4 linked regions of the Homo sapiens genome follow. The protein of the gene in region 2 interacts with the protein of the main gene of each other region in a pairwise test. Each region holds a gene or a part of one and is shown on either strand. Other genes may lie near its edges. The genes, in order: PPIF, SYP, PITPNC1 and WDFY2.

Region 1 (7,906 bases), on a different chromosome or scaffold from region 2:
GCGCTGCCCAGCCCAGGCCATGGCTGGCTGCTGTTTTCCTGAGATGGGATCCGTGGGTAAGAGAGGGGAACTGACCAGCCCAGCTGAAGCATCCACAGGTGTCAATTAGGTGCTCCCTAATTGATATCCCTCCCAACGGATGACTCAGGACTCTGGTCTGGACTCCCGGTGCCACCGCCTTGTGCCAGGGAGCCCTCCCGCGCTGGAGTTCCCACCCTGGCTCAGGACTTCCACCTCAGCTCCTACTTTACCATCAGCCTTAGGGCTGGGCCAGGCCTGCCGTCCCTGTGTTCACCCCGTATCCAGGCTTCGCCGCACATAGACGTCCAGTCCCAACCCGCTGCCACTTACCACGGTACGATGACGGCCACTGGGTCAGGGTGGAGGGAATGGGGAGAGAATTCCAGGCAGGAAGGTCTTCAAAGAGGTCATGACAGCCATGCCCCTGCCTCCAGGCTCTGCCTGCCCAGGACACCCAATCCCTGATCTTGAAGGTCTGTGCTAATAGAAGACCAGCCCCAACACCACCTGGGTCCTGACCCACAGGAAGCTCCTGCTACAACACCTACCCCCAAACCTCTGACACAGCAATACCAATGCTTGTGAAAACTGAGCATGACACATGACCGAAAAACATTCATTTCACCGAGAATAATGCCTTTCTCTGGGAAGGGAAGCCCCAAGTCCTGGCGTGTGTGTTCCTGCCCTGGACCTGTCTTCCTCCTCCGCCTCCTCCACTTCTCTCTCTCCCTCTCTTATCTCCCACACCAGTGCTCAGGGGCACACAGGGGACAAGGTCAGAGACCACTGGAATATGCTGGCTCTTCAAAGTCTTCAAGGCCACCCCCAGCACATCCATCTCCCAACCCAGCTCTCTCTTGATAGACTCCACCTCCCAGTCCCCCGGGCAGGGCCTGCCACTGACCTGGAGTGGCAGCGGGTTGGGGCTGGGCTTCCATGTGCAGTGAAGCCTGGATACAGGGCTAATGCAGGGAGGGCAGCCTGGCTGACAGAGCAACTGCAGCTGCTCTGCTCAGCACCTTCCTCATACCAGGCATCTTCACACACCCACAAGGCAGCTCCTGCTCTCATCCCCCCTTACAGAAGAGGAAACTACATTACCTGGCACATGAAGGAAGGGATCACCCTGTGGAAGGTGGAGCCTTTGTAGCCGAAGCCCTTCTCACCAGTGCACAGGGCTCTGAAGTTCTCTGAGGGTCGAAGAGAAACACAGGTCAACAGGGCCAGGCCCCAATTCCAGGGTCATACCCGTTCCAGCCAAAATCCCTGCTACATCCCCAGCAGTGAACAGGGGGATAAAGACTCTGGCCCACCTCTTGGGTCTGCTCTGCCCAACTCGCTATGTAACTGGACAAGTCACTCCCCTTCCCTGTCCTCAGTACCTGAGCACTGTGACAAGAGTACAGGCTCATGGCTGTGCTGGCCAGCAGGGCACGGACTCAAGGGCTGTGTGCCCATCACCCTGCCTCACTGGGCACCAGGAGTGGGGAAGTCTCCGGGAAATTTACATGTGCCTTCCACTGGCTCTGAGGCTCCCAGCTACTATGAGAGAGGAGGGCAGAGCCAACGTTGAGGCCCAGAGAGGGATGGCAGGGCTGCCCCAGAGCACCCAATGGCTGAGCCACACATGGAGCTCCCATCTGTCAGGGGTCTCTGAGCCCCGACTCTTCTCATCACGCCACCCACCTTGCCCTGCCTGGCCCCCTTCCCTCTAGACCCATCTCAGAAGGCCCCAGGCCCTGTCTTACCAGCTGTCTTTGGGACGACATCTGCCTTCAGCTGTTGGGGGAGAAGAAGGACAAAAGAGGATGGTCATTGGAGAGGCAGGTGAAGGTGGGTGTCTCTCAGCACCCACCCACCCCCACAGTGGCCAAGGAGGCTAAGGAAGAAGCACGTGGACATTCCATTCCCATTATTGCCAACCCCCATGGGAGGCAGCTCTATCATTTCTGGGAGCCGTTTCCTGAACCCAAGGCTGGAGGAGGTGGCCTTGGTTTCCTAATCTGTCAGAAGAGATGACAATGCTATCTTGGCCTACTTCTGTGGACACAGCTGGCAGTGCTCCCACAGCTGGGCCCAAAGCATCAGAAATTCAGGGACAAGAGAGTGTGTCTAAGGTAGAAGCCAGACCAGCTCCTCCATTCGGGGTTGGGAAACTGAGGCCCAGGGAGAGGCATGAGGGTGTGGGGAGGGAAGGCTGAAGCCCCATCCCAGCCAGCCTCTACCCTCGAAGCTGCAAGACCCACCCTGGAACCAAATGGAAGCAGGAAGGGTGTCCCTATTTTCCAGAAGAAACTGAGAATGAAGAAGAAATACTAAGGGCTCCCTGGGATACGGGCCAGTCAACACAAACAGACCCCTGCTGTCAATGTGTGGCCGACCTGAAGGCTCCACTAGGGCTTTCCCTCTAAAGCTACCCTGGTGACTGTTTCTTACTTTGCTTTAGAAAAGACCCAAAAACAGAGTTAGGGGAGGTGCTCAGTGTGGCCCCCAAGGACAGTGGCAGGGGTTGAGGCGCCGGGCACACTGTCTCTGAGTGTGTCCCGACTCGCAGGAGGGGCATTCTGGGGTCCACCAGGTGGCCGGGGCCTGAGGCCTACTGGGCCCGCACTACTGCTGGAAACCACCTCTCGCTCCATTTCCCAGCACCCCCAGTGTGAGCCCGACCGCAGGGGCGGGGCCGGAGCCAGGAAGCGCTCCGTGTTGTGCAAGGGCCGCCACGTGAGCACCCGCTGGGCCACGACGCTCACCCCAAGACCCCCGACACCCACCTCGGAGCTCCGGATCTAGGCTCAGCCCCAGAAGGCTCCTGGAGCCCCTCCCTCGTGCCCGGGCCGGCCCAGAGGTGCTGAGCCCTCCCTCTCTGCGATCTGACCTTGAGCTTTCTCCTCCACACGTGCCCTCCCTCCCGTCTCCCCCGCTCCAGTGCTCCGAGGGAGGCCGGAAGAAATCATTCTGACGCCCATTCTCAGAAATGGGGAAACTGAGGCCCAGAGCTCGGCATGGGGAGGCCCAAGGTCACCCAGCGCGCCCGGCACCGCGCCGCCCGGGGCCCAGGGCTCTCCCCGGGCCCGTGTCCCGCGCCCAGGCCGGCCCTGCGAGCGGTCTCACCTCCAGCACCACGCGGCCGAGCGGCTTCCCGTTGGCGTCCACGTCCAGGTACACGAGCGGGTTCCCGGAGGAGGAGGAAGAGGACGGGTCGCCGGAGCCCTTGCTGCAGGCGCGGGCCGCGGGGAGGCGCAGCGGCACGGAGCGCGGGACGGAGAGCAGGCCGAGCCAGCGGGAGCCGCAGCGCAGCGCCAGCATCGCGGGCGCGGGTCGGGCGGGACACGGGCGGGGAGAACACAGAACTCAAACTGACGTCGCGCGCGCCCAGAAGGCCGAGTCCCGCGCAGCCGCGCGCCGCAGCCTTTATTGGCTTGCCCAGGTTCCCGGCCCTGCCCCCGTCCCGCCTCCTCCAGGCCTGTCCGTGGACTACCCCTGCCGGCCGCAGCGGGCAGCGCAGCCAGCCGGTGGGGCCGCGGAGCGTGAAGTGCTTTGAAACACTCCCGCCTCCAGGCCCAGAGACCCGGAGAACAGACACCTGGCAAAAGGTTGCTGGTTCCATGTTTATTAAGGTACCAGCAGATTTTTTTAAAAAAAGAAAAACTGCTAAAACGTAATTAATTCCAAAATATGAGCATCTATACGTTGCAATTTGAATATAATAGCAAAAGTCTACCTTTGAGCCCTTTGCAGGTAAGGCTCAGGCCAAATAAGCTTCCCTGCTGCCCTAGGTCCTGCAGTCTGAGAGGGTTAGAGAAAGGTGAGATGAGAGGCGGGATTAGTGAGCTAGAGGCGCAAGAGGGAGGAGATAAGCTGAGACACCTCCCATGATGCCCCCTAGCCTGCTTGTCCCGGCCTGGGCCTGTCTCTAGTTGTTTCTGGGGACCAGACCTGCTTCTAGCAAGACTGAAAACGCAGCCTGGGCTCATCATGCTCCTTTCAGGCCCCCAGCCCTCCCCAGGACTGGGTCTGATCCCTCCTCCTAGGACCCACACTGACAGCCCCGGGGCAGACTGCCAGCTGCCCCCTCCCATCAGCATGCACCCTGGGAGGGGACTCAGTGGGGAGACCCACAGCAGGAGCATTTAAACCCCACGTGCTGAAAGTGGGCTTCCCAGCAGCCAGAGCCACCCTCACTGCAAGGTGGTGGGAGGTCTGCAATAAATGGATGCCACGCAGGGACCTGAGAGAGCATCTGGCCCAACACTTGTACTGTCCCCAGGGGAAGCTGAGGCCTGGACACAGGAAGGCACTGGCTAGGGCTAGGGAGCCCTGGAGTATTGCTACCAGCTTGCACCAGTGCTCCAGGCCTCTCTGGGCCTCAGTTTCCCATCTGGAGGGTAAGGGTGCGATCATGCTCCTCATCCTGCTTTTTTCTCGTGTCTGTTCTTAGGATAAAATGAACGAGAGAGACATGGATTTGTCAACTAAGTACTGTGCCTGTGGGCATCTGTGATGGACAGAGTCTGGACTGTCTTTCTCACAGTTTGGGATTCAGAGAGCTGCGGTCTCAGTTAGAGGCCTGAGGGGTCAGAGAAAGGGGTGGGGCTGAGCCTTGGAGGCAGGTGGGCAGGAGTAGGGACCAGCTCTGGACTGACCTGCCCCAGATCCTGAATGGGCTCATGGGAACAGGTCAGGCAGCAAAATGCCAGCCAAGCAAATTCATGAGGTCAGAGCAGTGCCCTAGCTTCATAAGAATGCTAGCTTGGCCTCTGGAAGTTTGGCTAGCTTGGCTTCTGGAAGTTCATAGCCCCCTTCTCCGATTCCTGGCCTAGGAGGGGCCTAGGCACCCAGTGAAGCCCAGGTGGGATGCATTCCAGGTCCCAGCCCAGAATGGGGCCTCACTCTGCCCTGGGGAGCAGCCCCTCCTTTCTTATGATTGTGCCCTGAGGTGAGCAGGCCTGAGTGGGGAGCCCACTTGAGCCCTCAGCACATGTCCCAGACCTTCCTCTACCAGTGCATCCTGTGGATTTGAGAGTGGAGGAATCACGCCATGTGCCTTGTCATGAAGCTTCCTTAAGGCCCCAGGCTTCCCTGCGGCCAGTTCCAGGCCCTGAGCTCACAGGACCTTCAGCCACAGCAGGTAGCTCAGCGTACCCTGTTGTTTCTCAAGCCTGCTCCTGGGGGGACTCAGTTTATGCCCCATCCTGATGAAGCATGAGCATCCCCACCCCAGGGGAGTGCTGCCTTCATTCACTTGACCACTTCAGTTCTCAGAACCCTTTCCCAGCTGTGAACTCTGCCTGAGAGACAGCTCTGTTTTGCAGATGGGGAAGCCAGGCCCCAGGGGCTGGGGAGTGAATTGCCCAAGGGCAGGCTGTTGGAACTGGGACCAGTCTGTCTGACTTCACAATCAGGGTTATTGCATGTCAAACCCTTCTCACTCTCACCACGAAGCTGGTCCTTGGGACAGGGTGGGGAGGCAAGAGAGATAAGCCTGGGCAGACAACACAGTAAGATAGAAACGGTGGAGTTGGCCAGGGGGCTATGGAGCTCAGGGACTAGGGAGATGGTTTTAATAGTGAGCATGAGCTGAAAGGCCTGTGGGGACCCAATCACAGAGGGCTCTGAAGGCCTGGCTGAGGTCTGACATTGTTGGATAGCACTGGGGAGCCATGAATAGTGCAAAGACTCCATGCTGAGGACTCTGGACTGGGAACCAGCTTCTTTCATTCATGTTACTCCTTCCACTCTCTTTGGAAAATCAAACGTCATCACTACCTCCTAAGCCAGAGAAAAGCCTACCTTCCCCAAAGGCTTAGCTATGATGTCATCCCTTCCTGTTCTGTTCTCAGTGGTATCAGGAAGAAGGATAGTCTATAGGCTAAGCCATGAGCTGAACACATGCCCAGCCCTTGAGGGCTCCGGGCCCAGGTGACATCAGGCAGGTGTTAGCACTCACCTGGCTCTGAGGCTATTTATAGACTGTGTTATCCTCAGAAACAGCAGTGTTTCTCTCCACTCAGCTCACATGGTTTTTTATCCAGGGTGCTGATGGGTTTTGTCACCTAGGGATCCTGTAACACCACCTCTAGGCCTCACAAAGCCAAAGAACAATCAGTTTGTGCTAAGCTCAGAATCTCATTCAGGGGTTGCAAACTCAGATGCCTGCGGGGGCCAGGCAGGTGATACACATGAGTGGTGCAAGCTGGTAAGTATGTAGGGAGTGAGGGGAGGTGGCACTGTATCCAGATAGCTAATGGATGTCCCAGGTAAAGAGGTAGCTGCTGCCCAGGCCAGCCAATTATTGTATATGGGACTATGGGTCCACACAGGCCACCCAGGTTTTCTCATCTTTCAATAAAAGCTGAAGACTTTAAGTTTTATAGAAATCTAGTTTTCAAATTTTTGAAATGAATTTCAAAATAAAATTAAACACCGAATGAACTGTAAACACCGTATCCAAACTAGATGAGGACTCTGGGCTGATAGTTTGTAAGCTCTGATTTCCACTGTACAGGTGAGAGGACTGAAGCTCAGAGAAGGATGGGGAGTGGCCCGAGGCCATACAGCTGGGCAGTACCAGGACTGTGGTCAGACCCTCTCTTCACTCTCCCCAGGGCCCTTTCTGCAAAGTTCACTCAGCAGACATGTTTTCAGAGCACCTACTGTGTTCTGAGCCCTGAGCTTCACCCTGGGGATTCAGAAGGACAAAGACAGGGACAGGAGGTTATGGTGTCCTGAGATGCTGGAACTGCTGAACAAACCTCTCCCAGGTAGCCCTGTGTGTGGCAGGAGTGAACGCTGTGGTTGTCGTGGGGTACAAAGTTACAGTTGTTCTGGAGAGACCCTCCAGGAGGGGCTGGGGGTGAAGGTAGCCCCGGTGTGGGCATGAGGTGGGGTTTCTATAATATTAAATATCATGAAGGCTGAGATCATTACCAGTGCCAGTCACTGGGTCATACAACCTGTGCTGCCAGCCTAGACAATGGTCCTTAGGTAGGATGAGGCCATGGACTTCATCTGTCTGGTTATGCTTGAGGGGTTTGGGGTCCAGGATAGCATCTGTCATGGGAAGGGAAACTGAGAGAGAGGTTCCCCGCGACTCAGAAAGCCACCAGACCCTTCTACTGGGTTGCTGTGGGACTCTCTGGGGATGGAGTGTCCCCCGTGGCCTTTGCAAAGTCAGTACATTCATCATCCTCTCTCTGCTGGCTTCTAAGAACCAGACCATGATGGGGAGGCAGAGGCAGAGAAGGGAGGTTCCACTAAGGCCCAGGGAGGTGGTGGGCACAGTGATCAGAGAGAGACCCACAAGGGGAAGATGGGGCGAAGCTCTCCTCTGGAGTCCAGCTGGTCTTTTACTCGTGTGATCTGGATCACTGCGGGCCACTGAGAGCGGAGCCAGTGTGGTAGGGTGGAGCTCAGTAGGGTGTGGCTCACCCTCAGCTGCTGGGCTCTCACACAACCTGCCTGGCCACAGCCCCCTGCAACTCACAACTCAGCAGAGCTTGCCTTCTGGGAGTATCTGCAAGATAATCCATGTTTGTTGTTTGAAGCCACTAAGTGTTGGGTCATTTGCCATGTGCAGTGGATAACTCATACCCATAGTACCCCACCCCAGCCAGGACTCCTGGAAGATCCCATTGCTCCATGCACAGCCAGTCCTGGATCTGCTGTCTCAGCAAGCTTGGTCACCAGCTCTTGGCAAGGACCTCACGGGCATGGTCAGGGAGAACTGGTCCAAGAGACAGGACTTCCTTGTCTTTGTAAAGACGTGGAATGGGCTGGTTATTTCTGTCTCATGCCTCTGAGGGAGACTGATTGAAGCTTGGGAGAGTGGAGGAGCTGGGAGAGAGTCCTCAGCGGGAGGGCCTGAGGGTCTGGCCATGGCATCCTG
Region 2 (7,692 bases):
TAACTAAAACAGACCCAACTCCCGCCAGGCACAGTGGCTCACGCCTGTAATCCCAGCACTTTGAGAGGCCGAGGTGGGCGGATCACCTGAGGTCAGGAGTTCGAGACCAGCCTGACCAACATGGAGAAACCCCGTCTCTACTAAAAATACAAAATTAGCCAGGCGTGGTCATGCATGCCTGTAATCCCGGCTACTCAGGAGGCTGAGGCAGGAGAATCACTTGAACCTGGGAGCCGAAATCGCGCCATTGCACTCCAGCCTGGGCAACAAGAGCGAAACTCCATCTCCAAAAAAAAAAAAACCAGACCCAACTCCCTACCTTCATGGAGCCTACATTATAACAAATAAATTAACAAAGAGGATAATAGCAGACTGAGAGAAACTCGAGGAGATCCTCATGTAGGGTTTTATGGTAGAGAATAGAATAATGAGGGGTGCTGCTTAGATATAGGGAAAAATTAAACCCAATTAAACAATTCTGACATTTATTGAGCTCACACTGTGTGCCGGGCAATACACTGGGTGCTAGGTGCACAAGAATGAGCACGGCTGGCATGGGCACTACCCTCACAATGATGTTTACCTCCTGCAGGGTGGGATGACAGAGACCCACAGACACAATCCCCGCACAGGTTTCTGAGACTCCCCCACTATTTGGCCAAATCACATAACCACTCTGGGTCTCAATTTCCTCATCTGTAAAAAGGAATACTAATAATATCTACCTCACAGGGTCGTGGTTAGCATTCAATGAGTTAATATTCATCAGGTGCTTAGCACAGTGCCTGGCACACAATAAGTGCTCCATCAGTGTCTGTTCAATAAGTAAAATAAATTTAAGGGACTCAGGAAAGAGGACAGGGGTTGAGTTGGAAACTGGGGGTCTTCGAGTACTGAGGGTAAATGTAGGCTCAAGTGATCACCCAGTGGGGAGATGGAAGAGTGAAAGTAGAAGAAAACCTAGCACAGGCCCTGAGCAATGATGGAAAAGAGAGGAGATGCCGGGAAAGTGTGGCCTGAGAGGCAGAGGGGCAGCCAGGTATCCATGGGTCCACAAAGGCAAGGGAGAAAAGAGTCTGGGGAAGGAGGGGGAGCTGGCAGCAAGGGACACTGCTTAGAGCCAGTCCTTTGGGGATCCACAAGACCACAACCATCCCCTGTGCCCCCTCCCCACGCCTCCCATGTCTAGAACTTTGGGTCCTAAGGCTCTAGCCCACAAGTCCCCTAGAAAAACAGTCTTGGCCCTGGGTCCCCCTGAGCAAAATCCCTCCCAAACTGCCCTAATACCCAAGGACCTCTCATTCCCTCTTAGGGACCCCCTCTCCTGACCCAGCCCACTAGAAACAGAAACTCAAACCCAGATGCAACTCCTAGCTCCATCATTTAGGAGCTGTACAACCTTGGGCAAGTAATAACCTTGCTAAGCCTCTGTTTATTCATCTGTAAAAAGGGTCTAATAATGCCTTCTTTAGAGAATTGCTGGAGGCTGTCATTAATGAGACATTTATGTAAACTGCTTAGTAGGTGACTAATAAGTGCAAGCCTCTTCCCTCAGGGCCTTTGCTACACAAAGGCATTGGCACCATTTGCTCAGTCTCAGGATCCTGGCCTCCAATCTGAGACTGTGCTCCAGAACTTCTCCCACAGACATTTTCTCTCTACAACCCCCACCTCTCCTCCATCACACCACAGGAAAGGCCTTAGTCCCAGGACACCTCCCCTCTTCCCTCACATACACACACCCTGTTCCAAGATCCCTTTACCCTCCTTTCTTTCTGTCTGTCTTTTCCTGTTATCTAGTCGCTGGCCTCTCCTCTGCTATGCATACATTTTTTTCTCTCGGGGACCTGAACTGGGGTGGGGGAGAAAAGTCAACATGAGATAGGGAGAAAACAAGGTTCAGATCTCAACTCTGACATTCCCTTGCCAGCTGTGTGACTTTAGGCAAGTTAATGCACTTCCCTGAGCCTCTGTTTCCGCCTCTGTACATTTCATTTGATAAACATTTCTTGAGTGTCTGCTAGGTGCCAGCACTGTTCCAGGGCCTGGAGATAAACGGAGGTGAAAACACAGGAAAAAGCCCTGCCCTCTTGTAGTTACAGCAAAAACCAAGATTAAAAAAAAAAAAAATACCTGGTATGTCAGATGGGTACCACTACTATCGAGAAAAGTGGAGCAAGGAAGCCAGGCTAAGAAGTGCTGGTTGAGAGAATGTTTCAATTTAATTTTAAGTAGGGAGATCAGGGAAGGTCTCAATGAGAAGGTGACAGTTGAGCAAAGCTTCAAGGAGATGAGGGAGGCCGGGCGCAGTGGCTCACGCCTGTAATCCCAGCACTCTGGGAGGCCAAGGCGGGCAGATCACAAGGTCAAGAGATCAAGACTATCCTGGCCAACACGGTGAAACCCCGTCTCTATTAAAAGTACAAAAATTAGCTGGGCGTAGCGGCGCATGCCTGTAATCCCAGCTACTCAGGAGGCTGAGGCAGGAGAATCGCTTGAACCCGGGAGGCAGAGGTTGCAGTGAGCCGGGATTGTGCCACCGCACTCCAGCCTGGTGACAGAGCAAGACTCCATCTCAAAAAAAAAAAAAAAAAAAAAAAGGAGATGAGGGAGTAAGACCCGAAGCTATCTAGGGGAAAAGCATTCCTGGCAAAGGGAACAGCCAGTACAAACAAAGATCCTAGGGAGGGAGGATGCCTGGCAAGTTCTAGAAATAATCAAGAGGCCAGAGTGCTTGGGTTGGAGTGAGGGATGAATAACACCTATCTCACCAGGATGTTTTGAGCAATCAGTGAAATGTGACTGGTACATAGTAGGTGCTCGATGAATGGTTATTTCCTCCTCTTCCTGGGGCCTTGTCAGAAATGGGGGGACCCATGATTGGGCTGGAGGGTTGAGGGTGTTCTGAGGGGCTGGGCCACACCTGCCCACCTCTGTTTGCAGGCTGCACCAAGTGTACTTTGATGCACCCACCTGCCGAGGGGGCACCACCAAGGTCTTCTTAGTTGGGGACTACTCCTCGTCAGCCGAATTCTTTGTCACCGTGGCCGTGTTTGCCTTCCTCTACTCCATGGGGGCTCTGGCCACCTACATCTTCCTGCAGAACAAGTACCGAGAGAATAACAAAGGGCCCATGCTGGTGAGTCCCCACAGCCACTTGCATGTAGGGACCATGGGGACACGGAACCCCAGGGACACAGCCATGCTCACAGACCACACCAAATCCCAGACAGGCCCACATGCAAACAGCCACCATAACAGCCACACATATAGTTGCTGCTGCTATTAATCCACACCAGGCATCCGGGACACAGAGTCATAGAGTCACGGAGACATACAGCCTATGCAGAATCCCAGACAGGCCCACACCTGAGAACCTTCCCACTCTCACACAACTACACAGCCTAGATCAAAGGAAGAGGCCCACAGAGGTTCGCTGTGACAGTCATGCCTGTCATCATGCCACACAGACACACTGATTCCTACACCACTGTACTCACATACCCTCAGCCTAGACACAAAATGACAAAAATTCCCACATGCAGACAAAAGTAGAAAGACACATTACTTTCCACAGATTCGGAAATCATCCCAGAGTTCCCCTCCCCCCAACACCCACAGCCACATATCACAATCACACTCCCACATCCTCTGTGTCATGTACACACACAAGCTCAAGCTGGGAGGGCCACCTTCAGGTGAAAGTGTTGTGGGCTTGAGAGCTGAAAAGGCAGGGGAGAGACAGGCCTCTTCTGGGGGACCTGTGATCCGAGGAGGCCCCAGGGCCTAGCGTGAAGCAGTCCACTCACAGTGCTGTCTTCCTCACCCCTGCCTGCCTTAGGACTTTCTGGCCACGGCTGTGTTCGCCTTCATGTGGCTAGTTAGCTCATCGGCATGGGCCAAGGGGCTGTCAGATGTGAAGATGGCCACAGACCCAGAGAACATTATCAAGGAGATGCCTGTCTGCCGCCAGACAGGGAACACATGCAAGGAGCTGAGAGACCCTGTGACCTCGGGACTCAACACCTCGGTGGTAAGCCCTGGGTGCTGGCTGGAGGAGGGAGAGTGGAAAACAGTACAGTCCGGCATGGGGAGTGGTGGAGTGGGAGAATAAGAGGAGAGTCAGGGGAGATCCAAGGGGTGTCCCTGAAGAACGCGTGCCAACAACAACGTTGAAGGATGAGCTAGCAATTGTAACCACTGTGACACCACAGACTGTCCCCAAAGGGGGAACATGACAGGTTTGGGAGACCTGGATCCCAGACCCAGCCTAGACATGTAAAATAAGCAACTCAGCACCCTCTTGGGACCTCAGTTTCCTCATGTGCAAAATGAAGGAAAAACTTGAAATGTTTCCCCACTTGGATGCCCCCTACTGGCTGGAGTCAGACTGTCTGCGCTCAAATCCCAGCTCTACCTCTTGCAAGCTCCCTGACCTGAAACTAGTCACAGCCTCTCAAGGTTCAGTTGAGCATGCATAATCGAAGACTAATAATAGGTCCTGCTCCAAAGTTGAGTATTTATTGAACTAAGAATACGGAGTGCTCAGAAAAGGGCCTGGCACAAGGTAAGTCGTATACAAGGGTTACAGATGCTAAGATTACAACTTTTCTTTCCTGTCACTTGCTGGATGTGAGACTTCAGGTAACTTAGCCTCTAGGGCCTCAGTTTCCTCAACTGTAAAATGGAGATAGTATTTCCTGCCCAAAACTGAATTTTAAGTGAGCTTATAACATGTAAAGCTCTTAGAAGAGGGCTTGGCATATAAGGAAAGGTACAGAAAGTGTTTTATGTCTTAAAATTACTTTATGTGGCCGGGTGCGGTAGCTCACGCCAGTAATCCCAGCACTATGGGAGGCCGAGGCGGGCAGATCACCTGAGGTCGGGAGTTCAAGACCAGCCTGACCAACATGGAGAAACCCCATCTCTACTAAAAATACAAAATTAGCTGGTGTGGTGGTGCATGCCTGTAATCCCAGCTACTCGGGAGGCTGAGGCAGGAGAATTGCTTGAACCCGGGAGGCGAAGGTTGTGGTGAGCCGAGATCGTGCCATTGCACTCCCGCCTGGGCAACAAGAGCGAAACTCCATCTCAAAAAAAAAATTATGCAAGTTTCATATATCTTATACATGTGCACTTATACATATATTTTATCTACATTTATTTAGATGCATGTTAGTGGTATAGCTATATTTAATAAGTTTGTATCCTTACATTTTACTATGAATATATTACAAATTTACATTTTAAACATGCATAAATGTGTATATAATGTGTATATGTGCAAATATGTAAATAATTGTATATGTAATACTGATAGATCGCAGCATCCCCAGGGCTCCAAATTCTTCTAACACGCCCACCCCGCCAGAGGTGATTTTTCTGCACATCGACGTTCTCGCACTGGGACTCAGAGAGTCTGGGTTTCAGAAACCCCCACCTTGCGGAGCCTACGGATTCATTCCCCGCATGCTCATTCCTGCACGCAGGGCCGCCAAGGCAATGGGCGGGGTACCACAGCCGAGCCTTGTCTCCCTGCAGGTGTTCGGCTTCCTGAACCTGGTGCTCTGGGTCGGCAACCTGTGGTTCGTGTTTAAGGAGACAGGCTGGGCCGCCCCGTTCCTGCGCGCGCCTCCCGGCGCCCCCGAGAAACAACCGGCACCCGGGGACGCCTACGGCGATGCAGGCTACGGGCAGGGCCCCGGCGGGTACGGGCCCCAGGATTCCTACGGGCCTCAGGGCGGCTACCAGCCTGACTATGGTCAACCAGCCGGCAGCGGTGGCAGTGGCTACGGGCCTCAGGGCGACTATGGGCAGCAAGGCTACGGCCCGCAGGGTGCACCCACCTCCTTCTCCAATCAGATGTAGTCTGGTGAGTGACCGGCGAGCGGTGCGGCCAAGGAGGGTACAAGGAAGGAGACGAGCGGGTCAGTGAACCAATAAGAGTCAGGGGTAGAGAGTACGTAAGGCGTTTACTGGGGCAAGTAAGGACTGAAGTTTGAAGGAGCCAATCAAGAGGCAGAACTACCTGCTAAGAGCTGAAAAACTAGCTAATGAATGGAGAAAAGAAGAATGGTGCTTCAAGATGGACAGAATGAAGAGCCAATGGGAGGGAGGTAGAAGGGCAACTCGGCGGAAAGGCGGGGGGAGAGAAGCAGAGCAACCAATAAAGGGAGGGAATATCGGGGGACTTGCGCAGTGGCGAATCAGCGGAGCGCAAGAGCCACGGAAGCGACGAGGAGGTGGGTCTTAGAAGTGACTGATAAGCCAATAGGTGATAAGGCCAATAGATGGTGAGGGTAAATGGGCGTGGATCTTGAAGGTCAGACGAGCTCACCAATCCGGGAGGAGGGGATAGATCTGCCGCCTCTCCCCAACGCTGGAGGGGAGGGAAGTAGTGTGGAATTTCAAAGGAGGAAGAGGGATAGGGTGGGGTCCTGGAAAGGTTTGCCGGCCTTCTTGCTGGGCCTTAAAAGAGAAGTGAGGGTCGGGGCTTGGTGGCTCATGCCTGTAATCTCAGCACTTTGGGAGACCGAGGCGGGCGGGCCGCTTGAGCCCAAGAGTTCGAGACCAGCCTGGGCAACATGATGAAATCCCACCTCTACAAAAAATACAAAAATTAGCCGGGCGTGGTGGCATGCATCTGTGGACCCATCTACTCAGGAGGCTGAAGTGGGAGGATCACTTAAGCCCAGGAGGTTGAGGCTGCCGTGAGCTATGATCCTGCCACTGCACTCCAGCCTGGGCAACAGAGCGAGACCTTGTCTCAAAAAAAAAAAAAAAATGGAAAGAAAGAAAGGAAGAAAAAAAGAAAGAAAGAAAAGAGGCCAGGTGAGGTGGCTCATGCCTGTAATCCCAGCACTTTGGGAGACCAAGGTGGGCAGATCACCTGAGGTCAGGAGTTCGAGACTAGCCTGGCCAACACGGTGAAACCCCGTCTCTACTAAACATATAAAAATTAGCCGGGCATGGTGGCGCACGTCTGTAGTTCCAGCTACTCTGGAGGCTGAGGCAGGAGAATCGCTTGAATCTGGGAGGCGGAGGTTCCAGTGAGTCGAGATTGCGCCACTGCACTCCAGCCTGGGCAACAGAGCGAGACTCTGTCTCAAAACAAAAAAAAAAAGAAAAAGAGAAGTGAGATTTCCCTCAGATAGGAGGGAGGATATAGGGGAGGAAAGGCAGGAGGAAAAGGCTAAGGGGTGGCTAAAAAGTGGGGGAAGGCAAGAAGGTGGCAATACTTGGATGGAGGTAGCTTCTGACACTGGGTTAGCCAGGATGGAAAGGGCATCCCACATCTAATTCATCAAAAAATCCTGTGGGTCCTACCTTCAAAAAATATATCCTTCATCTTCCACTGTCATCTCTCCCAGACCTCTTCTCAGGTCTCCATTTCCATTCTGTTCTACTCACAGCATCTGGAGGGATTCTGTTAAATCCTAAATTAGGCCACAGTCCTCCTGTGTCAGAACTCTGCCCTGTCGCAGGCTGGGCGTGGTAGCTCACGCCTGTAATCCTAGCACTTTAGGAATGCTAGACTTGAACTCCTGGGCTCAGGTGATCCTCCCACCTCAGCCTCCCAAGTAGCTGAGACTATAAGTGTGAGCGACCATGCCCAGCTCACTTTATTTTTTCCATTTCACTTATTATTGTCACCCTATGTTATACGAGATAATCCACTCATGCATCATGTTC
Region 3 (7,692 bases), on a different chromosome or scaffold from region 2:
AATCTCAAGATGGGCTGCAGTCTGTGCAGACACACAGGCTGAGCAGTGAAGGGGTGTGAGCTGGGGATGTGCTGAGCTGCCTAGCAGATCCCTGGGACTTAGGGTAAGCCTTAGAGAGCCTCAGTTATTTCGTTGCACACTGGAAATTGAGAGCTGACTGTATATTGTATGCCAGCATTTTAAGTATCGTAATCTCTCAATCATTCATGCTAATGAAGGGTAGCTAGAGATAACAAAGAAAAGTGTAATCACCAAATCATTTCTTTGCATCTTCAGCCAGAGCTGTGATCTCTTTGGGTTCCGCCTTGAGTCCTCATGTCCATTAGCCCAGTCTCCAGAATAATACATAGTAGGTGTTAAAAAAAAAAAAAAAAATCAGCTGGGCGCGGTGGCTCATGCCTGTAAGCCCAGCACTTTGGGAGGCCGAGGCAGGTGGATCACCTGAGGTCGGGGGTTCGAGACAAGCCTGACCAACATGGAGAAACCTCGTCTCTACTTAAAATACAAAATTAGCTGGGTGTGGTGGCGCATGCCTGTAATCCTAGCTACTCAGGAGGCTAAGGCAGGAGAATTGCTTGAACCTGGGAGGCAGAGGTTGCAGTGAGCCAAGATCGCGCCATTGCACTCCAGCCTGGGCAACAAGAGCAAAATTCTGTCTCAAAAAAAAAAAAATCAATGCTGTAGTTCTAGGAAATTTAGATGTGGCTGTTGTCATAAATGGATCCTTTAGAATTGTGAAGACCTTCTGATTGCACTTTGGAAATTTTTAGTTAAATTTTTGGAGCATGTCTTTGGAATGTGCCCTGCAAGTCTCATGTGCTGCAACTGGTTGCATGTGATTGCCCTTGAGGTTGCAAGGGCCCTAACTCTTCTCCCATTTTGCATGCAGTGATCTGATTTGCAGGAAACTGTTGGAGCAAGAGGCGTTTCCTCTCTATGCACAGACCAATTCCAGTAGGACTTCCCCCTAGAAGTGCTCTTTAAGGAAACTCTCCTTGAATTTCTATCACTTTCAATTACCTTTTCTTTTAGAAATGTTGGGCCCCAGTTCCCCCTCAGCCACTCTGAAAGCCATTCACTATAAATATGACCAGGCAAACAAAGGAAGAAGCCACAGGTAAAGAGGAGACACCAGATGGCTAAAAGATGCTAAGCTCAGTGATTTTCTCACAGCTTATAAGCCCCTTGGCTTGGCTTTCTTTCAGTTTTACTGTGATTATTACTTTATAATTAAAGTCCATGGCTGGGTGCGGTGGCTCACGCCTGTAATCCCAGCACTTTGGGATGCCAAGGCGGGCGTATCACCTGAGGTCGGGAGTTCAAGACCAGCCTGACCAACATGAAGAAACCCCGTCTCTACTAAAAATACAAAATTAGCTGGGCGTGGTGGCGCATGCCTGTAATCCCAGCTACTCGGGAGGCTGAGGCAGGAGAATCGTTTGAACCCAGGAGATGGAGGTTGCAGTGAGCAGAGATTGTGCCACTGCACTCCAGCCTGGGCAACAAGAGTGCAACTCCATCTCAAATAAATAAATAAATAAATAAAGTAAAATAAATAAATAAAGTAAAATAAAAAATAAAGTCCACTTACTATGTAGAAGGTGATAACGTAGAGTGGTTCTTCCCATGGAAAAGCCCACATAATCTCTGGCTGCCCCTCAGCGTTGTTCCCGTGACTTCAGGGTGAAAGATGCCTGCCACCGGAGAAGTTACACAAAGTGGTTATTTTGAATGCTTATGACATTTCCATTATCCTTTGGAATTCCGTGAAATTGGAGCACATTTATTTTTCCTTAGTCTTTCTCCTGTATCATAATGAAAAGCAGTGAAAATCAGGAGGTGGCTCTTTGTCACAAATAAAAACTGCATGGGTGCTAAATGAATTTTAGATCATCAACCCAAGCAGGGACAAATTAGATTGAAATTAGGCAAAATTAACATCCATGAACACAGCAGTGAGGAAATAAGTCTTTTCAATTGAGCAGGTTCAAAGCCTTCAAGGACGGGAACTTCTAAGAGCCTCTGGGAGTGGAAAATCAAAATTCTGTGCTTTAGATTATTTCTGCCCCCTGCTGGCTATGTGGAGTAGAACAATGTATTCAGCCACTTGATTAAGAAAGTCTGCTTTTTCAAAGATAATATCCATTTATCATAGCAAAAACATAACATACCCTGATACACTAAAATTTTTCTCAGTCTCAACTTTATTGTGAAATAAATGCCTCTTTTTATATAACCTTAATCTCACTTCTTAGCTCATTTAATAGTCTTCCATGTTTTTAAAAATTGGTAAGTTTATAGGTACAATTTTTCTTGATATATGCTGAATTTTATATCTTATCCACATAGTCATAATGACTTATATCCTTTGTAAAAACTTTCCCTTTCAGAAAATTTTAATAATTGTTCCCAGGAAATCCTCTTAAGGATTTCATTTTGTGAAAAATACTTCTGGTTTGCTCAGATGTTATAAAACCTAAAGATTAAGCTGGGCACGGTGGCTCATGCCTATAATCCCAGCACTTTGGGAGGCTGAGGTGGACGGATGACCTGAGGTCAGGAGTTCGAGACCAGCCTGGCCAACATGGTGAAACCCCATCTCTACTAATAACACAAAAATTAGCCGGGCGTGGTGGCAGACGCCTGTAATCCCAGCTACTCGGGAGGCTGAGGCAGGAGAATCGCTTGAACCCCGGAGGCGGAAGTTGCAGTGAGCCGAGATCTCGCCGTTGCACTCCAGCCTGGGAGACAAGAGCAAAACTCTGTCTCAAAAAAAAAAAAAAAGAAAAAGAAAAGTCCTAAGGATTAATACTGTGTTATGAATATTCATTACATACTCAGTATTTCCAAAGTGGCTATATTGTTTCCTGCTGGTTATTCCCTCCAATATTATCTAATGAAGTTTCAACTGCTAAGTACATGGCAGTGGACAAGAAACAATGAAAAATGGGTCTCTGGGGGGCCAAAACAGATACAGAAAATCCGCGGGCACTAAATTTTGCATTTTGCTCCAGGATAAGCCTTGGGCCTTGACTCAGTCTTTAATAAGCCCAGGTTCCTCTTTTCCCTGTTCCCAGCAAGTAAAAATGGCAAAGGATACCAGGGATAGCCAGGGTAACAATAATTAATAATAACAGTAATAAGGCTGGGCACGGTGGCTCAGGTCTGTAATCCCAGCACTTTGGGAGTCTGAGGCAGGTGGATCACGAGGTTAGGAGTTCGAGACCAGCCTGGCCAACATGGTGAAACCCTGTCTCTGCTAAAAGTACAAAAATTAGCAGGGCATGGTGGCACGTGCCTGTAGTCCCAGCTATTCAGGAGGCTGAGGCAGGAGAATTACTTGAACCCAGGAGGTGGAGGTTGCAGTGAGCCAAGATCACGCCATTGCACTCCGGCCTGTGCAACAGAGCAAGACTCTATCTCAAATAAATAAATAAATAAATAAATAAATAATAACAGTAATAATAGAGTTTCTGAGCATGAGAGAAGAGATATCAAGCCATAAAGAGCAAATAGACCCTGAGAAGGAACTAAGGAACTGTATTTTTGCACAGTGATATATCTTCAACATATTATGTCTCAAATGTAGGAAGTATGTATAATACATTAAACACATTAGGGAAAGATTTACATTTTTTAAATACTGTTTTTACTTTCTCACTTAAATAAGAACATTTCAGGTATTTGGAAAACCTACATTATCCAACAATGATTATTAACAGTGGTATCACTGTCTTATTTGTTGAATTCCAAGTCATGCTTTTTTTTCTTTTAAATAGAATCCTCACTATTAAATGATCCTCTCCTTTCATTCTCTATTCTTTTTAAGTTTCCTCAAGAAATGGTTTTATTTTCTTGGCTTTGGAATGATTAGCAGGGTGTGGTGAAATTGTTGATTTACGTGTTTTTGAAACTGAATTTATTAAAACACAATCTCTGAACCTTCTTAGGATCGACACACAGTCAGGAAACCAGAAACAACAGCATCTTTGTGGCCCCTCAGAATAAAAAAGTATATGTATTGATTAAGAAGATAGCATGTTGGCCTGAGTACAGTGGCTCACGCCTGTAATCCCAACACTTTGGGAGGCTTAGGCAGGCGGATCACTTGAGGTGAGGAATTCAAGACCAGCCTAGGCAACATAGCGAGACCCTGTCTCTACAGAAAATACAAAAAAATTAAACCAGGCATTATGGCATGCACCTGTGGTTTCAGCCTCACGGGGCCCTAATGCAGGAGGATCACTTGAGCCCAGGAGGTCGAGACTGCCGTGAGTCATGATCGCACCACTGCACTCCAGCCTGGGTGATGCAGTGAGATCCCGTCTCAGAAAGAAAAAAAAAAAAGAAGATAGTATGTTGAAAAATCCTGATGATTTACCTGTTTACCCTATAAAGGTATACTTTCATGATCTAAAGTTGACAATAATGACAATAATATGTGTCATTTCAGGGCCATTGATTGTTTTAATTACCTTCTCTTTATGAAAAATATGACCAGTTAATTATAGCTCCAAATACCCCACACCAGACCCACAACAACACAGATGCACACGGGTGCACACACATACACACACACAGGCACATATTTCCCCCGTCTAGTTCTGTATTCTACTGTTAAGTCCTTATTGAGAATACTTAAAATACTCACTGTGAAGAGTGCTTTGGAAAATCTTAAATGGATAATCATAAAGGGATATTGTTTTCAGGGTGTAGCTTCCAATAGAAAAAATTGGGGGTTTGGTATTTCAATGATACTTTGGGTGTATAATCGGGAGAGGCCCCTTTATGATAGGGTTCCCATAGTTCCTGTAAAAACAAGGGTAGTGATGAATCTATTTGCCTCTCTTATAAATAACTGCTCGTTTTTCTTTCTGTTTTTCTCCTTGAAGACATGACAATGGATGAAGTCCGAGAATTTGAACGAGCCACTCAGGAAGCCACCAACAAGAAAATCGGCATTTTCCCACCTGCAATTTCTATCTCCAGCATCCCCCTGCTGCCTTCTTCCGTCCGCAGTGCGCCTTCTAGTGCTCCATCCACCCCTCTCTCCACAGACGCACCCGAATTTCTGTCCGTTCCCAAAGATCGGCCCCGGAAAAAGTCTGCCCCAGAAACTCTCACACTTCCAGACCCTGAGAAAAAAGCCACCCTGAATTTACCCGGCATGCACTCTTCAGATAAGCCATGTCGGCCCAAATCTGAGTAACTTTATATAAATATCTCATGGGGTTTTATATTTTCATTTGTTGTTGTTGTTTTTTTTTAAGAATCTTCTGATAGAGAAAAAGACTGCTTTGTCACTCAAACATGTTCCTTCGACCTTTCAGTGTGCATGTGACTCAGTAACTTCACATAGAATATGATTCCCTAAGTATGCTACACAGCATCATATTAGATGTAAGATGTAAGACTTGCAAAGGACAGAAGGAATCTTCTGTAACCACATAGCTGTATGCCAGAGAGGAAGCCTTGTTATTGGGCATTTGATGAGGTTTGGCATGGACTTCAAGGATAAATGAATGAAAACTTTGCACCACTTTTGTTACAAGGTACGGTAGAAAATAGTGAAGTCAGTTTCCTCTCATCAAATCTAAAATTCTCCAAAATACTCTCAGGCATAACATACTTAGCTGTTAAATTTTGAACTGCTAATTACTAATACTTGAATACCAATAGTTACTGAGATTCCTATTTTGTGGTTAGTCTGACTCAGGATTTGGAGCCTAATTAACTCTAAACTTTTGAAAATTTTAATCATCAAGCTATAGAGGCTCCAAGTGCAATTAATAATAACTCATTTATACCTTCCACAGAATTTAATAAAGATTCTACTTGTTTCTGTCTTTTAATAACTTTCCCCTTTTGTGCCCTTGTGGCCTCAGAAATCCTTAAGAATTGCATGGATGAATGTGACCATAACTGATTTTGGAATGGTTCAGTTTAGGAACCAAGAGGCCCAGGTGAGGCAACATCTTTTTTCTCTACAGGTACCAACAAACCTTGACTTGTCAGCTTCCATCATCAATTAAGATTCTCAGAATTTGCAATTAATTGAATAGAATTCATTTACTATCTGCCCACTCAAAGAAGTACAAGGGTAGAGTAAGCTAACTGGGCTTTAACATGGTCAGAATGTCTGGTGCATGAACTATAAAAAAGAGAACTGTCTCCCATCCCCTTCCTTGTTTTACTCTTAGTAACATCCAGAATTCCCTGGAACAGATTGCCTACCACCAGACCTTAGAAAAGACTGTCATTCTCTTGCTCCTTACTTGAAATACAAATATTGGGAATGTCACAGACATCAAGCAACTACTGTCAAGTGGGAGGAGAGAATGAGCAGAATTGCTGACTCCTATTTGTAGAGTGAAAAGGAGGAGTGATAATAGATGCCCTTCTGTCTAGCTTTCCTTTCTTCAACTAGTGGTAATGCAAGATTAGAATCAAGGTTGACAGGAGGCAAGGTCACTCACTGAAGTGACAGAAAGACAATTCTCCTTTGCTCCAAAGAGAGAAATCTGTCACCTTTGCACCTCACTGCCTTTAAACACAGACGGGAGGGCAGGCCAAATCTCAGCATTGACTTTTGTCCTCCAAGAGAGGAAGAGAAGAAGTAATTGGGCAACTTGGAGGCCCACGCCCCAGCTAGCCTTCCTGATCGTAACCTCCAACCTCAGGAAAGGGACCTTCCCAAAACACAGATCCCAAAGGAAACAAAATAGACCAAGGAGCATAATCTGCTTCTCTCACACAGCCTCTCTGCCAGTGGACCCTGCCTGCTTCCCTCTCAGTGCTCAGCACTCTGTGTAGTGTCTTTCAGGTTGATACACTCTCCCAAGGTGCAGGCGCTGGCCCCATGAGCCCAGCACCAAAGTTTTCTAAGTCATAGGTCAGACTGTCAAGATCATTTCTTTATCTATAGGTTGATATTTAGCTTAAAAAAAAAGAATAAACCTAGAACTCAAAGGAAACCTGTTGCAAATAGCTTAGATCAACAGTGTATCTCTTCCCTAAGAATGATAGTATCTTAGTAAGACACCTTCTATGCATGGTATGGAAGCATGATTTTTGCTTGTGGGAAAACCTAATATTTTATCAGACCCCTCGGACTTCTCAATCCCTCCCTCTCCACACAGTAGTACTTAATGAAAATGTTTTGCTTTAGAGAGCAAAATGCTACTTTCAGAAGACACTGAAATAGTATATGTATTTGCTTACCATTTGCAAGCTAAAATCAAGGTGGGATGGGGTCATTATTTTCACATAGAATGTATTTATTTTGTGCAGGCTGTTAAACACATCTGGCACCTAGTTTTTCCATTAAGAGCATTGCTATTTTCCCTTTTTATAAAGTAGCTTCTGCTGTCAAGGTTAACAATTCTATATGCTTTAGGAAGCTAAGTTCTAATTTCCTTTTGTGAGTTTCATTTCTTTTATAACCAGTATGTTACCACAGACATCAGTTGCAAAGCTACGATGATAGTGTGATTCTTAGCCGAAAAAAAAGCGTGTGCTCTTAAAGTATGTTCAGTTTTTCTGTCTACATATGCTTTGTGTGAGTTAAAAAGGGGGTGGGTGGTGTAAATATTCCTTTAGCTGCTTTGCATATTTAACCCAGTCATCAAAAGGCATAAATGACTTCAATATTTTATATATCTTGGTTTTCAAGTATCATTTCACATTCTCTAT
Region 4 (7,692 bases), on a different chromosome or scaffold from region 2:
CTTTCTCAGCGCAGGCATGTTAGGCATTATTTGTAAAAGCTGCTATATGTTTAAGTAATAGAGCAAAAATATATGTAAAGTGCAAATCCAACAGGGTAAAACAAGAATTATGAGAGTTCACCTAGACAGAACAAGAGCCAAGTGCTGGCGCCAGCTTTTACTCCTAAGGAATGGAGCCTCCATTTCCATAAAATGCTTGGAAGACACCCAACACCAGCACATATTTCTCTACAAATTACAAAAATGGGGGAGACACTTAATGCAAAACGCAAGAATTCACAGTATTACAAACACACAGTTGGTTTGCTAAACGCATTTCACCAAATTCAAGCACCCACACAGATGAGAGAAAAGGAAAGAGCAATGGATACCTTGACATATCTGGTTTTCTGATGATGATTCTCAACACCAGTGGGCTGTGAAGTGGCTTCAGCCTCTGAGTGGCTCTGTGGGCTGGGAGGGAGAAGGTAGAGTGGCGTGCAAGGTCACAGGCCAGAGCGACTGTAGAGGACATATGTGATCTGACGGGGACACTCTGCTTCCCGAATGAGGTCTGAACGCATCTAGACCCATCTCAGAACCCATACAGGCTTGCTGGGCGCCTGGGCCTTTGCTGCCCTAATACTGTGTTCCTCTCTCTGCCGGCAGGCCAAGCTCAAAGTTTAGGAAGGGAAAATGGAGTGATTCAGCTCTATTACTCATTTCCAACACACAGTCCTATATTACATACAACTTAGTAAGTGGCTGCAGCTTCTAGTAATAAACTACAAAATAGATATTTGAATATTTTAAATTTAATTCCCTTGTTAAAGTTCTCTCAAAGAGCAATCATGCAGAAAAGACTCAAAGTAGTTACAACAGTTTTGACTGACGCAAGCAAGGGTAGTCTGGACCAGGGCAGCGAGGCGACAAGTGCTAACAGCCTGTGCGGGGCATGCGTGTGTGCCTCTTCAGAGCTCCGGTCACATGGGCTGAGCCGGTCTGATGGCTCAAGTGACAGCTTCCATGTACCGTGGCTGCATGGGGCACATGCACTGGTCCTGCTTCCCAATGCTGGGGCAGCAGAATCACCTCTAGCAAGGCCCCATCCCAGGGAAACACACGTAGGGGCAGTACCTGAGGACAGCTTGTAGTACTTCCCCCTAGTTAGAGAAGTAATGAATGATTGTGAGGGCAAAAAACGGCTTTCCAGGAAAAGAGGGAAAATAATAGGGAGGATTTCAATTTCACTCCCATGTGTATTACTGCCAAAAAACCTGTAAAATCAGAAGAGAGCAAGACACTGTGGGGTGGGGCTTGGGTCGGGAAGGACAAGCAATTGGCCTGTGATCCTCAAGAGACTGGTGAGCTCCCTGATGCTCCCGACACGTGAGGTTGAATGAGCTGTGCGTGTAAAGTGCTTAGGAGGGGCAGGCACCTGGCGCAGGCTTGCCATTAATTTTTATTCTATTTTTACAGGTGAAAATAAGATTTTTAAAAGGGACTTCAATATCCTGAGCTGAATCACTACACACAAGAATATTTCATTTTCTCAAGCTTGACTGGATTCCCTTAGAAATAAGAGTTCTTCAGGTTCACTTTCTAAAGTCCTCTTTTCCATTCCCACAGAAACATAGCCTGCACTGTAGGTACCATTCTGTCTCGGACCACCCACATACCGTTTTAGTAAGAAAGTGTGCAAAGTGTTCTGATGAAACACATTAGGATAAAATGTTTAAATATCTAGTTTTTAAAGGGATAGAATACAGAGGGCGAGGAATACAGCAGGATTACAATCTTGCCGTAATGAACATGTTCAAGTTCAGAGATGATGTCACACAGAAAAACACAACTTAAAGACACTTATTTTCAGAGCATGTATGGTGGGGGTCCCCAACCCTGGGCTGCAGATGGGTACTGGTCCATAGCCTGTGAGGAATGGGGGCACCCATCAGACGTGAGCAGTGGGCAAGCAAGTGTTACTGCCTGGGCTCCGCCTCCCATCAGATCAGCGGTGGCGTCAGATTCTCACAGGAGCAGAAACTCTATTGTGAACTGCGCATGCGAGGGATTTAGGTTGCGTGCTCCTTATGAGAAGCTAATGCCTGCTGATCCGAGGTGGAACAGTTTCATTTTGAAACCGGTCCCTGCTGCCAACAAGGTTGAGGGCCGCTGATGTAGGATTTTGTGTGTGTGTCATTTGTTTTCATTGTTACGAGTGAGGGAGAGCTGCGTCAAAAAAGCTAAAACAAGAGGCTCAGGAGGCTCCAACTGAATTCTAAATGATCCAGGCACTGATCGTTGAAGCTCTGAGTTAAAATAATCTACTTCTGTGATAACCATGGTTGGGAGCAGCTTTCTCACAGCATTTTTTTTTTTAATGTGGGAAAGACAGAGGCAACTGAGGCAGAAACACAGTCTTTTCTACTTCATAAGAACGTGAATGAGGCAGACATTACAAACAAATCGCTCTTCAGGCAATTCCAGCAGCTGGCTGGTGAATCCACATGATGAGTTTCCAAATCTCTCCACTGAGGAGGACATGAAAGCAGAAACACTGGGAATAAATAACATAAATACATCCCCTCCAGGAAAGGCAGAGAAGGTGCAGGTAGGTGCAGAGGGAAGAGAAGAAAAAGCCGCTGGCCACGTGACACATGTTGAAGTAAACACAGAAAGTATAATGACCAAAATACTCTGAGTAGATACCTCCCTTATTTCTCTGACAAAGCAACAAGTAAAATGGGGTGTTGAAAAGTATAAAAATTAAACACCCCACACAGATTTTTCGGTACACTCAAAACAATGCAGCACAGCCAGACTGTATAAACCATTTGTTAAAAAAATAGCTTCTTTTATATTGTATGAACAAGTTGGAAGAGTCCCCTTGCGAGTGCTCACTGGCCAGGTCCCCACTGTGCACATGGGTAATCTGCAAATTCATTCAGGGTCTTTAGTTTCTTTCTTACTTCTCACATGTCTGCTTTACCACTCTGGTAATGATTTGGGTTAAAACAACCGTTTCTTTAGTAAATACTATCTTTCTGATTCCTGGGAGAGTCATCAAGACACGACTGGGGTCATATCCCACAACTGCAAAAAGAAAAAGAAGATACAGAATGAACTAAAATTGTGTTGAGGATAACAGTCCTTAGAACTGAATTCTTCAAGGAAATTTTTTTCATTTAACAAACCACCACATACTATACTAACATGATTTCCAAATCTGTAAAATATTTTTTTCATCAAAAAAGTTCAAATAAAGCTCAAAAACAAGACAATGACAGCTTGAAATTTTGATGCAGCTCATGAAGAATCATGGCAGATTCAATCTATTAATGGCTGAGAGGACTGGGAAGACAAGCTACACTGCAGATCCTCCTGTGAGTCACTAAAAGGGAAATGCTGCAGAGCACTGTGTTTACATCTGAGGCAGCATTCGATGAGCCAACATGAAAGCGACAATATAGATTTGTTCCACCCTCCAAATAGATTGAATCCATTAAATAACTCAATCCATTAACTGGACGCCAAGCACGTGCTGTGTCCTTTCCATTTAAACTTCCAAACCATTTTACAAGATACCTCGTTTTCAAAAATAAAGGACCTGAGGCTGCCAGAGTTTATCCTATTTTAATTAATTAATTATTTTGAGACAGGGTCTTGCTCTGTCACCCAGGCTGGAGTACAGTGGCACAATCATGGCTCACTGCAGCCTCGACTTACTGGGCTCAAGTAATTCTTGCACGTCAGCCTCCCAAGTAGCTGGACTACAGGCAGGAACCACCACGTCTGGCTAATTTTTGATTTTTTTGTTAAGACAGGGTCACACTATGGTGGCCAGGCTGGTCTTGAACTCCTGGGGTCAAGTGATCCTCCGTCTCACCTCCCAAAGGGCTGGGATTATAGGCGTGAGTCAACACACCCAGCCCCAGAGTTTATTTTAAACTTCCTCTCAAAGTCACGGAGATCTGGTAGCTTCCAAAGTGGGTTATTTTAGCTATCTCATCCTGCTGTGACCTCCAAGAATGGGTCAGGGAGGTAGAGCTCAGTGTGCTATAAATTCTCATATGTATTACCGTTTTGACTGCTACATATGTGACCTATTACAGTCTTTTTAGTCTGTCCCAAGTAGACTATCTATTCCTTGCAGGCTGGAGCTCTGTCTTATTTCTTTGTGTAGAGCCAGTGCCTGGGATGAGGCTGTGCATGTATCAGGTTTGTAATAGGTTCTCAAAAACACTCACCTTCAATGGTAACTTTTTTTTTTTTTTTTTTTTAAGAGATGAGGTCTTGCTTTGTTGCTCAGGCTAGAGTGCAGTGATGTGATCAAAGCTCACTGTAGCCTTCAACTCCTGGACTCAAGCAATCCTCCCTCCTAAATCTCCTGAGTAGCTGGGACTACAGACACATGCCACCATGGCCGGCTACCCAAGGATAACCTTTAGAACAGTGCCTCCCATGTTCTTGGTGCTCCTGTATATTTATATGAGGCCAAAGATGGAAAGCTTCTTAATAAGATGGCATCTTACCTTAATAACCTTGTCAGTTCCAGAAGTCAGTAACCATCCTCTGGTTGCATCGAAATGCACATGCACAATGTTATGTTTACTGTCATGGAAGGTGGCTGTGGGTGCACGTCTAGAAGGAGCAAAGAAAGCTTCTGAGGGGAAAAGGTGGTGACATATGAATGAGAGAGATCTAGGATGACATTAGGCTCTAAATTTTGGCCTCGTGGCTAAAACTGCTTCACTGACAGGAATGCTCCTCAGATCTGCCTTTATTCCCTGGTGACCAGTTATGATAAAAAAAAAATACAAGAAATCTTATAGTCTTTAAAATGGGAAAGAGATGAAAATTTCTAAAAGTCCTTCTGGAGAATGTTGCTCCAATGGTGTCTGTGATAATCTCCACCCGAGCTTTTAAAACCACAGGGCTTTTGCTAAGTTTGAGCTCAGAAGGACTTGCCAGTAAAATAGTCTAATTAAAAAAAAAAAAAGGACCAAGATAGTACTAAGTGTCCCATGATATTACTAAGTGTCATTCTAATAGGAAAACTATCCCCCTCCATTCATTTTTCCTTTTTCACTGGTATGACTGAAGACTTGGTTTTTCTATAGTATTCTAAAGCTGTAACAAGCAAAACAAAATAAAAAACAAACATCATTATTTTTTACCTATACTTTTTTTTTTTTTAAGTAAGAAGACTTGTCAGCTGCCTAGGTGCTCTAGAGGCAATGCAAGTGCTTCCACAGAGAAGAGGCAGAAGAAACAGAGGCGGGAAAAGGTGCAGGGTGCAGTCTAGGAGACTGCTCTTATCATGCTTCAAGGGGCCCACTCCACTGCAGTGGGCTCTCAGGACAATTTTTTTTTTTCCTTTTTTCTATAGCTAAATCTGCAGGATAGATCTTCAGTATCTTAAAATGGTTACTTTAAATTTTTAGAAGATTTAGGCTTAACTGTAAGTCCCTTAAACTCTTAAAGTCTATGTCTTTAGCTACAAAATGAAGAATTAAAGTAGGCTATCTCTAAGGTCTCTTGCACTCTCTAATTCAATGAGAAAACTCTCATTAATTTCATCACGTATGATGAGTAGAAAATAATCAATGAACATAAATGCATACTTATGCAAGGGCATCTTATTTTATATTTGATATGGATAAATAAGACTACTTATGATTTTACTGTAATACAAGGTGCTGGAAGGATTGAGAAGACAAGCTACCCTGCAGATCCTCCTGTAAGTCACTAAAATTAGGGAAATGCTGCAGAGCACTGTGTTTACATCTGGGGGCAGCTTTCAATGAGCCAACACTAAAGAGATAACATAGATTTGCCCCCACACCTCCACAGCACACCAAGGGGTAAGTAACCTATGTCCTGGGTTACTGGGCAGGTCTGACAAGCAGCCAGCTGAGTAACTGGGCAACTGGGAATATTTGCCTCTTGGGTAAAGCGACTTAGCTCTTCCCGGAAAATGAAACCTTCTGGACCCATGGACTCACTCAACTCCTGTAAAGATACCAGCTTGGGACAGAAAGTGAATCCTGAGCCCTTATACTCCTGGGTAATTCTCAAGTAAATGAGCAGACAGAAGGGTTTGTTCTGGGAGCAGCTAATTTAAAGGCACATAACCTAGAAATTAGAAAGAACACAGAGATGAATTCTTTGAGTGTATTTTCTCTTCTCTCATCTCACAGGATACCACAAATCTCTTGGTGGCAAAGGAGAGCTTTTACTGCTTGCCGTGGACTATATTCTAAACCAGCAGAAACTAGAGCAACCTGAGTGATGGTTGCGGCGCTGAGTGCAAGGCTCAGATTAAATTCTCGCCTTAACCTGAAGCGGTCTGCAGGCTGCAGGAACTTACTCTTCATCTGTGATGGCCTCGTGGCAGCTGTCACAGACCCTCACTTCAAACTCGAAGCCCATCAGGGGGATGGAGGAGCGCTTGGAGCTGCACTTGCCACAGACGGCCTTCCCACACTTGCGGCAGTGGTGCTGGAGGAGGGAGATAAAATAGATACTCATCACGGCTCCCTCAGCTCCTGAGGCCCCCGCATCTCACCCCTCCTGGCAGAGAGGTGTAATCAACTGCATCCAGGTGAGGATGCTGAACAAGAGAGCCCCAGAACTAAAGGGAACACATTGGATGTGTTCTTCTCTGGGGCTCTGTTTATTCAACAAGGACTGTTGGGTAACACACCTGACAGGGATACCACCCCACTCTCCTGCTTTCCCTACTCTTGGTCCTTTCCAATGATCATACTAGGAACTACAGAGGAACCACCCAGGGGCCAGGTGATCTTAAAGCGGGGTGTCTGAGAAACTGCCGTCTCAGGAGATTATGCTGCTGGATGAAGGAGAACATGCAGGAAACCTGATTGAATCTGCTGACTTTGGCCATGGTAAGCCTAGGTGACCTAACATTTGATTTCCTTGGGGAAGACCAAACAGAACCATGGAATCAGATTGAAAATGCTGTATTATAAGTAGATCTAAATAACTAAAATTAATCAGAAGGAGGGAAAGTAAAATAAGGAGAGAGAAACACCACTTATATAATTTCATGGTCTGGTTTCCATACGAACTAAGCATGACACCTCTAATTGTAAGGTGCACTGCAATAGAGGCCAACAGAATTCTAAAATCACATCCCTAACTGCTTACTGGGAACCAACCACTACAGAAACTGAATCCAGTAGGAATGGGCTATGGTAGACAGAGTAAATTACTGTGCAATCACGAGGTGACTCCAGGATAATAATTTACCCTCACCACAACTCCCACCCAGGGGTGTTATTTCTTCTAAGATCACATGGTTGAGCTATTTCCATATAATTACATTTTGATGAAGCATCCATATCACTCACCTGTCTTAGACCAATTTTCTTACTGTCCCACATTTGCTTGAAGTTCCAGAAGAAAGGCTGATCACACTTTTGGCAGGAATCACTGTCCAACCATTCAGGGGTCTTGTCAAATAAAGCACAGAACAGGTCACTGTGGCCAGCAGTCAGGACAATGGAAACCACTGACCCTGATGAAACTTATGGAGCTATCAGGATGTGTTTAAAAGAAACAGAGGTGTGATTTCTCAGTCAATCATTCAAAAAATATTTACTGAATGCCTATTCTGTGGCAGGCCCTGGGGATGGGATGTAGTGGTGAATAAGAATCTCCACCATCATGAAAATATGATTAATAATTATT

Evidence for each region.
Region 1: the proteins of SYP (region 2) and PPIF interact in binary tests that used the Homo sapiens proteins (3 or more experiments, as listed by UniProt).
Region 3: the proteins of SYP (region 2) and PITPNC1 interact in binary tests that used the Homo sapiens proteins (3 or more experiments, as listed by UniProt).
Region 4: the proteins of SYP (region 2) and WDFY2 interact in binary tests that used the Homo sapiens proteins (3 or more experiments, as listed by UniProt).

Annotation. Positions count from the first base shown.
Region 1 is NC_000010.11:79,342,970-79,350,875, reverse strand, and holds the start of PPIF (peptidyl-prolyl cis-trans isomerase F, mitochondrial precursor), read right to left. Parts: upstream 3,408-7,906; 5' UTR 3,328-3,407; coding exon 3,133-3,327; intron 1,801-3,132; coding exon 1,770-1,800; intron 1,212-1,769; coding exon 1,123-1,211; intron 1-1,122. UniProt on the Homo sapiens protein: PPIase that catalyzes the cis-trans isomerization of proline imidic peptide bonds in oligopeptides and may therefore assist protein folding. Involved in regulation of the mitochondrial permeability transition pore (mPTP).
Region 2 is NC_000023.11:49,189,613-49,197,304, reverse strand, and holds part of SYP (synaptophysin), read left to right. Parts: intron 1-2,943; coding exon 2,944-3,139; intron 3,140-3,841; coding exon 3,842-4,033; intron 4,034-5,541; coding exon 5,542-5,868; 3' UTR 5,869-5,872; intron 5,873-7,692.
Region 3 is NC_000017.11:67,687,680-67,695,371, forward strand, and holds part of PITPNC1 (cytoplasmic phosphatidylinositol transfer protein 1), read left to right. Parts: intron 1-1,591; exon of another isoform or gene 1,592-1,694; intron 1,695-4,892; coding exon 4,893-5,209; 3' UTR 5,210-7,692.
Region 4 is NC_000013.11:51,755,120-51,762,811, reverse strand, and holds part of WDFY2 (WD repeat and FYVE domain-containing protein 2), read right to left. Parts: exon of another isoform or gene 7,455-7,692; coding exon 7,353-7,454; exon of another isoform or gene 6,481-7,352; coding exon 6,350-6,480; exon of another isoform or gene 6,272-6,349; coding exon of another isoform or gene 6,180-6,271; intron 4,621-6,179; coding exon 4,512-4,620; intron 3,073-4,511; coding exon 3,043-3,072; 3' UTR 454-3,042; coding exon of another isoform or gene 430-453; 3' UTR 1-429. UniProt on the Homo sapiens protein: Acts in an adapter protein-like fashion to mediate the interaction between the kinase PRKCZ and its substrate VAMP2 and increases the PRKCZ-dependent phosphorylation of VAMP2.